Linked DNA regions of Homo sapiens. The protein of the gene in region 1 purifies or fractionates together with the protein of each later gene. This does not show direct contact. Each region holds a gene or a part of one and is shown in the gene's direction. Other genes may lie near its edges.

What was found. Proteins that work in one complex are often made in the same cells at the same time.
Region 2: the proteins of CLEC3A (region 1) and ZZEF1 purify together in Homo sapiens (affinity purification with mass spectrometry; 2 studies listed by BioGRID and IntAct, with this or other methods). This does not show direct contact.

Annotation. Positions count from the first base shown.
Region 1 is NC_000016.10:78,020,346-78,024,095, forward strand, and holds the start of CLEC3A (C-type lectin domain family 3 member A precursor), read left to right. Parts: upstream 1-2,202; 5' UTR 2,203-2,281; coding exon 2,282-2,396; intron 2,397-3,750. UniProt on the Homo sapiens protein: Promotes cell adhesion to laminin-332 and fibronectin.
Region 2 is NC_000017.11:4,136,401-4,140,150, reverse strand, and holds part of ZZEF1 (zinc finger ZZ-type and EF-hand domain-containing protein 1), read left to right. Parts: intron 1-3,750. UniProt on the Homo sapiens protein: Histone H3 reader which may act as a transcriptional coactivator for KLF6 and KLF9 transcription factors.

The DNA of each region.
Region 1 (3,750 bases):
TGGATTGTAATTTCTACTCAGTTCCTTGAGATCTTAGTGATGTTAGACAAAAACCACTTAACTTTTGAGGCTCAATCACCTTTAAAATGGAGATAATATTATTACTTATCCCACAGGCTTGCTGTGAAGACTAAAAAGATGGCATTCCATAAATTGTATGTACCATTGTAATTAATGGTAAGGATCTTATTATTAAATACTGGACATTGCGCTAAGTGCTTCATAGCCATTATCTCATTTAATCTTTCCAACAGCCCTGTAAAATAAGCATTCCTAGCCCCCACTGTTAAGATGAGAGAAGCCTTATAGAGGTTTATTGACTTGCCTGAGATCACACAGCTAAGCGGTAGGTTGTGAACTGAGCTCAGCCTGTCTTCACAATGTTCTCAAATGCCCATGCATTAACTGCCCATGTTGGTACAAAGAGTCAACACCGGAGGTCAGATCTTTAATTGTACAGTTACTTTGCTGAATCATGTCAGACTTTCCTACATCAGTGGTCTTACTATGGTCTTACTATATTGGTAGGTTACAAAATGGCTTTAACTTGGAGGAAATGAAGATGAAATAGACTGTGGTTTTTCTCATTAAGATTCAGAAGGAAGCACTCATTCCTTGATTCTTTCTGTATTGTCTCAAAGAAAAAACAAAGGCAAAATGAACTTGGTCCTTCAGACCTTCCAAATCTGCAACCACTGCCCTCCATTTGCACCTGGTCAGCCAAATAAGCATGTGGAATGCAGGAAGGCCTTTCCCTGGGTCTAAATTCCTCCCTCTCGGCTATTCCTGTAATGCAAGTCCATTGCTTTTGATGCAAAAGCCTATCAGGTCCCGAAAACTTGCCCTTAAAGCCTATGGTTAAAGGTAGGAATAATTGAGTTTCTCATTACATTAATTTTATTTTTATTTTTTATTTGAGAAGGAGTCTGGCTCCGTCGCCCAGGCTGGAGTGCTGTGACAAAATCCCGGCTCACTGCAACTTCTGCCTTGTGAGTTCAAGCGATTCTCCTGCCTCAGCCTCCAGAGTAGCTGGGACTACAGACTCCTGCCACCACGCCCAACTAATCTTTTTGCGTTTTTTAGTAGAGACAGGGTTTCCTCATGTTGGCCAGGCTGGTCTCGAACTCCTGACCTCAAGTGATCCACACACCTCAGCGTCCCAAAGTGCCGGGATTACAGGCGTGAGCCACCACGCCCGGCGAGTCTCTCACTAGGTTTCTGTGCTATTACATCATGCACTTGAAAGTGTTGTTTAATGTGTTCAAGGAAAAATGATTGGTGAGGACCTGAAAAAATAGCTATTGATCTATTACATTAATTCTTATTCTAATGGAAATAATTCACTTTTTAAAATTTTCTTTTCACTGTAAGGTACATTTTCCCAAGAAAGTAATTTGCCCGGGCTGGAGGGCAGTGATCTCGAACTCCTGGGGCTCAGGTGATTCTCACACCTCAACCTCCCAGGTAGCTGGCATTACAAATGTGTGCCACCATGCCTGATGAATTTTTTTATTTTTTTGTAGAGATGGTGTTTCGCCATGTTGCCCGTGCTCTTCTCGAACTCCTGACCTCAAGGGATCCACCCACTTCGGCCTCCCACTGGGACTACAGGTGTGAGCCACCACATGCAGCCCCAAGGAAGTAATTCTTGATGAGTCTACAAAATCCTAATGGAGGAAAGCCCTATATTTTATCATCGAGTATCTATTTCCGCAATCTCCATAAATCCCACTGAGAAAACTACTTCCAAGCTACACTTGAGCTGCGCAGACACATGAGTATGAGTAGACACACTGGCTTGAATGGTGCTGTGGCACCACACACACACACACACGCAGTAACTTTCCTTTTTCTCCAATTTTTTTTTTGCCCTGAAAACTAAATTGAATCCATTTTCCAGAACATTTAGTGAATTTCAGAGTTCCAAATCAAAGAATTTTTCACAAAGACCCCAATCTTCTCAGAGTTTAAATTTAAAAAAAGAAAGCAGGCTAAACCTGTAGTTAAGTTTGACACACTCCAAAAAGGCAAATCACTAGGAAATGCAGCAGAAATTAAATAAATAGAAAGCCTAACATGAGGCACAAGAACAAGAGGCCACCTTATGCTGTGGCCAGCAGAGGCATTCAAACATTCCGTCAGCAGGATTCCAGCCAACCTCCGAAGCTCACTTTTATAAGCCAGCCCCAGGCATCCCAGAGCAAGATGTAGCTGTGTAGTCTCCTTCCATAGCTGCTCTAAGGGGGCTGGCAACATGGCTCAGCAGGCTTGCCCCAGAGCCATGGCAAAGAATGGACTTGTAATTTGCATCCTGGTGATCACCTTACTCCTGGACCAGACCACCAGCCACACATCCAGATTAAAAGCCAGGAAGCACAGCAAACGTCGAGTGAGAGGTAATGGGGCTTCTCAATCAAGCAAAATTCTAGGCTTAGACAGTGTGGGGAGGTGCTGGACAATGTTAATTTTCAAACTCCTCCAGGAGACTATCTTCGGTGATGGCACCATGCCATCATCCCTATATGGCATTTCAGGGGATTAAGTGAACTTGTAATGCTCTGGGATAGTTTATTTTAAAGAAACCAGGCTGCTGGGTTTTAAAAAAAAACAACAGGGAAAAAATTTGATAGTAAAAGAATTCTGTGTTGTATATTTTTTGTTAGGTGGGCTTAAATAGAATGTGCTTCAGAGGAAGCTCAAGTGGATTTCTGAAAATCTGGTGTTATTAATATGGGGCAAGAAGAATGTATTAACTGAGCACACTGTTTCACTAGTAGATATTGAGTAACTCAATTCAGTTATATTTTAAGATAACTATAATCTTATTCAATGTGTAGCAGAGGATAGAGATTTTGGTAATGGTGACTTCCTGTTTTGTCATTAGTTATCATTAGCTGTATTTCCATATCCTTGGCAGCATAAGGACAACCTATACCATATATTTAAACTTTTTCATGTCAGAGACATTGAATCTCTCCAACTTAAAAAAGTCAATATGCAAAGTCATCTAGTATTTGAAGGCATTGTGATGCAAAACTGAATCTCCCAGGAACCTCAAATTTTGAGTGACTTGAATTGGGTTAACAGGTTAAAGAAATTGAAAAGAACAATGATGATAGCGAGGTGTTTGCAATACGTTGAAACCTAAGCAAAAGAAAAAAACAAGACAGAGGGTCATGTTTTATCACATCCTCTGCATCATTTTCATTTCAGGATATTTCAGATTATGACTATTTCCTTATTTTCACTCCATTAGTAACAACACACACATACACAAATTTCAGCAAGGTTACAGTCTATTTCACATGACAGATGGCTGGTGGGTAAAAAGGGGTCTTGTGCTTTAAGGATTATAAAGTACCATTTTTTCAGGGACATTTATTTACAAAATTTAGGTCTGGTGCAAGGTTTCTTTTTTTTTTTTTTTTCTGAGACAGAGTCTCGCTCTGTCGCCCAGGCTGGAGGGCAGTGACACAATCTTGGCTCACTACAAGCTCCACCTCCTGGGTTCACGCCATTCTCCTGCCTCAGCCTCCCAAGTAGCTAGGACTACAGGCGCCTGCCACCACGCTCGACTAATTTTTTGTATTTTTAGTAGAGACGAGGTTTCGCCGTGTTAGCCAGGATGGTCTCGATCTCCTGACCTCGTGATTCGTCAGCCTCGGCCTCCCAAAGTGCTGGAATTACAGGCGTGAGCCACCGCGCCCGGCTAGTGCAAGGTTTCTTAAGTGGAATCTTTTTTCCTTAAGA
Region 2 (3,750 bases), on another chromosome or scaffold:
GGTAGGCAGTCCAAGATTGATGTGGCAGTGTTGTCATCATCAGGGACCTGGCTTCGTCCATCTTGTGCTGTCATCCTCCACGGACATCTTCCACTTAGTAATTCTGTTGACTCCTGCTGTCATTTTCCACATTCCAACAAGCAAGAAAGGGAAAAGGGAAGGAGAAGGAAGAAGCCATGCCCACTCTCTTACGGGCATAGCTTACATCCCACAGGCCAAAATTCAGTCACATGGCCGCAGTTACCTGCAGGACAGGCTGGGAAAGATTCTTTTTCCGTGGCCATATATTCAGCTAAAACTCAGGGCTTAATTATTGAGGAAGGGGAGAGAAAACATTGAGTTATATTTGGCAGTCTTTGATTCACATAGCTAGGTCATACAGTTCTGTGAGTGAGGCTTAGCCAAGGTTTAAAAACCTGATTGTGATAATCTCACAGTGGCCACCGTCTCTCATGATAATCTTGTGATGGCTGCTCTGTCTGTAAGAACTAGTAAGTTAGGACTAGCCAAAGAAGATAAGATTTAGCCATGCATTTGATTCTGTGCTTTAAGAATGTCTATCCTTAGACTTGAATAAGTATATACTTTTGTGCATACTTACACAGTTAATTCTGCGTTGTTAATCTACGTCTAAGCTTTTGAGAATATACTGCTGTATTTTACTGCAAGATGAAGGGCTTGTGAAGTAATGTCTTTATAGTAGCAACTAAAATGACAAGTTGTTTCCGTCATTCGTTTTTATAAGAGCTAACATGGTAAAACAGATAGCCACGGGTGCGCATGGTTTATTATAATGCTGAGAGTTTCCAAGTGTTACATGTTTCTTCTTTGGCTTCCCAACTTACGCTGCCATTGGTGTCCACGCAGCTGTCTTGCTTTCACATTCCTGTGACCTCAGTTATTTGAGGAGGTGTTATAAAGAAGTTCTTGGAGTTGGACCATGGACCAAAGTCTGAAACATTATCATTTTATAGTACAACACACCTTTTCTCATGGTAGGTGTGGTCCAGGGAGAAGGTGCGCATGGTTTATTATAATGCTGAGAGTTTCCAAGTGTTACATGTTTCTTCTTTGGCTTCCTAACTTAGCTGCCATTGGTGTCCACGCAGCTGTCTTGCTTTCACATTCCTGTGACCTCAGTTACTTGAGGAGGTGTTATAAAGAAGTTCTTGGAGTTGGACCATGGACCAAAGTCTGAAACATTATCATTTTATAGTACAACACACCTTTTCTCATGGTAGGTGTGGTCCAGGGAGAAGGGACTCTCTCAGTTTGCTCACAAGGAGCAATATTTAATTAACTGCCATGTAGAGGGGAAATAGAATTAAAATTAAGTTCTTATTTCACATCAGAGGTTATAGATTAGATATTTATGCTCTTAGAGTATGATTCTAGAAAATCTTCTAGGGCAGAAAAACGTGCTGAGTACAGGATAACAGATGGCCCTAAAGTGAAATTTCATATGAATAGGTTGTGTTTTATTAATTTGCCACATAGTTTTGGTGCCTACTTTGTGAAATTCGTGGGGTGGTAAGCTCTAAGGGAAGGGCCTTTTTGATTCATCTCTGTTCATCGTCTTAGCACAGTCCTGGGTGGTTGCCAGTGCCCAGGTGCTTTGGGAGACTGTAGAAGTTGTAGTCCACACACACTCAAACCTCATATTTTATATTCAGTCTGTAACCTTTTAATATTTCTTGACATTGAAGGAAACGGTTAAATATGATTTTTGTGAAAACTTTAAAAGGTTCTTAGTCACTTTCGGGTTTACAGGAAGTTTGTAGAAAAGCCCTGTGCTCGTCTTCATATTATTATGTGAAAAGTATTAATCAACTAATTTAGAATGGCTTTGAGCCCAGGAACTGTGCCGTAGGAATCTGCAGATGTGATTATCTGCCCTTTTAAGACTATTGACTGTAAGAGCTGTGTGTGTGCACCATAAAGCAACAGCAGGCTGCCAGCTTTTCTTGCCTTCAGCCGGGAGCCCTCAGCTCTCCACTACCCAAGGGACCAAATATGTATTTGTCTGAATCGGTTGAAGCCCACACATCAGCCTAACTCTCTCAGCTAATTTACCTTTCCCCCACCTGCACTAGCCCTGTGCTAGCTAGTGGGATGCCTGCTTTGTTCCTAACTCCCTTACCTAATTTATCTTCCCCCTACCCCCGCATGAGCCCTGTGCTGGCTAGTGGGACACCTCCTTTGTCCTGTGTATGGACCTTGCTATCAGTTCTTGAAGATTCCCCACCTTGGCACTGTCACCTGGTCAGCACCACATCTTCTGTGGCATGATTCAGATAGTGTCTCCATAATGGTGTTTTCAGCCCTACAGCTGAGGCTCCTGTTACCTGTTCTGTACAGATCCTTTGGCACTTAGAGCATACTGTCTGGCCTTGCTGTGCAACTAGGCTGTGAGGCCGCCAGCCACCTGCCTGCACTACCATTGTACACAGGAGGTCTTTGGTAAGGGATGGCTGGCTGTGGATGGTGATGAGGCAGTACAGGAAAGATCCTTGGTGAGTGGAGATTATTATTATTATTATTTTGAGACAGAGTCTCTGTTGCCCAGGCTGGAGTGCAGTGGCACAATCTTGGCTCACTGCAAGCTCCGCCTCCCAGGTTCACACCATTCTCCTGCCTCAGCCTCCTGAGTAGCTGGGACTACAGGCGCCTGCCACCACGCCCGGCTAATTTTTTGTGTTTTTTAGTAAGAGACGGGGTTTCACCGTGTTAGCCAGGATGGTCTCGATCTCCTGACCTTGTGATCCGCCCACCTCGGCCTCCCAAAGTGCTGGGATTACAGGCATGAGCCATCGCACCTGGCCGAGTGGAGATTATTTTTGCTTACTTTGGCTTTGTGTGTTTTGCTATGGGGGAGTTAATGGTATTGGTTTCTTTGGAGAAATTCATGACCTAGGAGAGCTATGGAGGAAGGGCCACAGCTCTTTTGTCTCTCCCTGATTTCCAAAATACCACCTCACCATGGTACTGCCTTGCTTTAGAAACTTCAGTGGCTCCCCATTGCCTTCAGAATCACATCTGAATGGTGGAGCAGCCTTTACACTCTTATACCTTCTACCCTTGTCTCCCAGTGCTCTTTAAGCAGCCACTTTATGGTCCCGTTTCCCATGTATGTGGGAATTTTGTCCTTTGCTCTCCTTCTCCTCCTGTCTGCTCCCTGCTCCATCCTAAGCCCACTCCAGTTTCAGGGACCACAGAGAAGCAGTTACCAGCAGCATGGAGTTTGAGAAAGGCTTCATCACAACAAGGCTTGAGAGGCTGGAAGAATTCGCCTGGCAAAGGAAGGAAGGGATTTGCCGTATGAAAGGCACAGCATATGCAGATATACTGGAGTGAGAGGGCATGGCACGTTTTGGGAATGATCCTTTAGCACCTAGCCTACAGTCTGAACCAGCTGGGACCTTGGTACTCATTGCCTGCAAGCTGCCCCCTCTCTGCCCCCGAAAAGGGACCCCTTTCATAGCAACCTGGACGGGTGTGTAATTAGCCTGTAATGGCATCAGCGGGTTTGCCGTGTTATGAGTCTGCTCATTCTGCTGTTCTTCAGACTGAGCTTGGGAACTGGGCCTCGAGCCAGCCTGCTTGTGAGCAAGTTCTAGTTCCACCATTCTCAAGCCAGCTGACTTTGGTCAACCTACTTGACCACAGTGTCTCAGTCGCCTCACCCATAAAACCAGCTCACCTGCTCAGTGCTCAATAAGTGTTGTAATTGGCAGTGTTACTGTTTTCTAT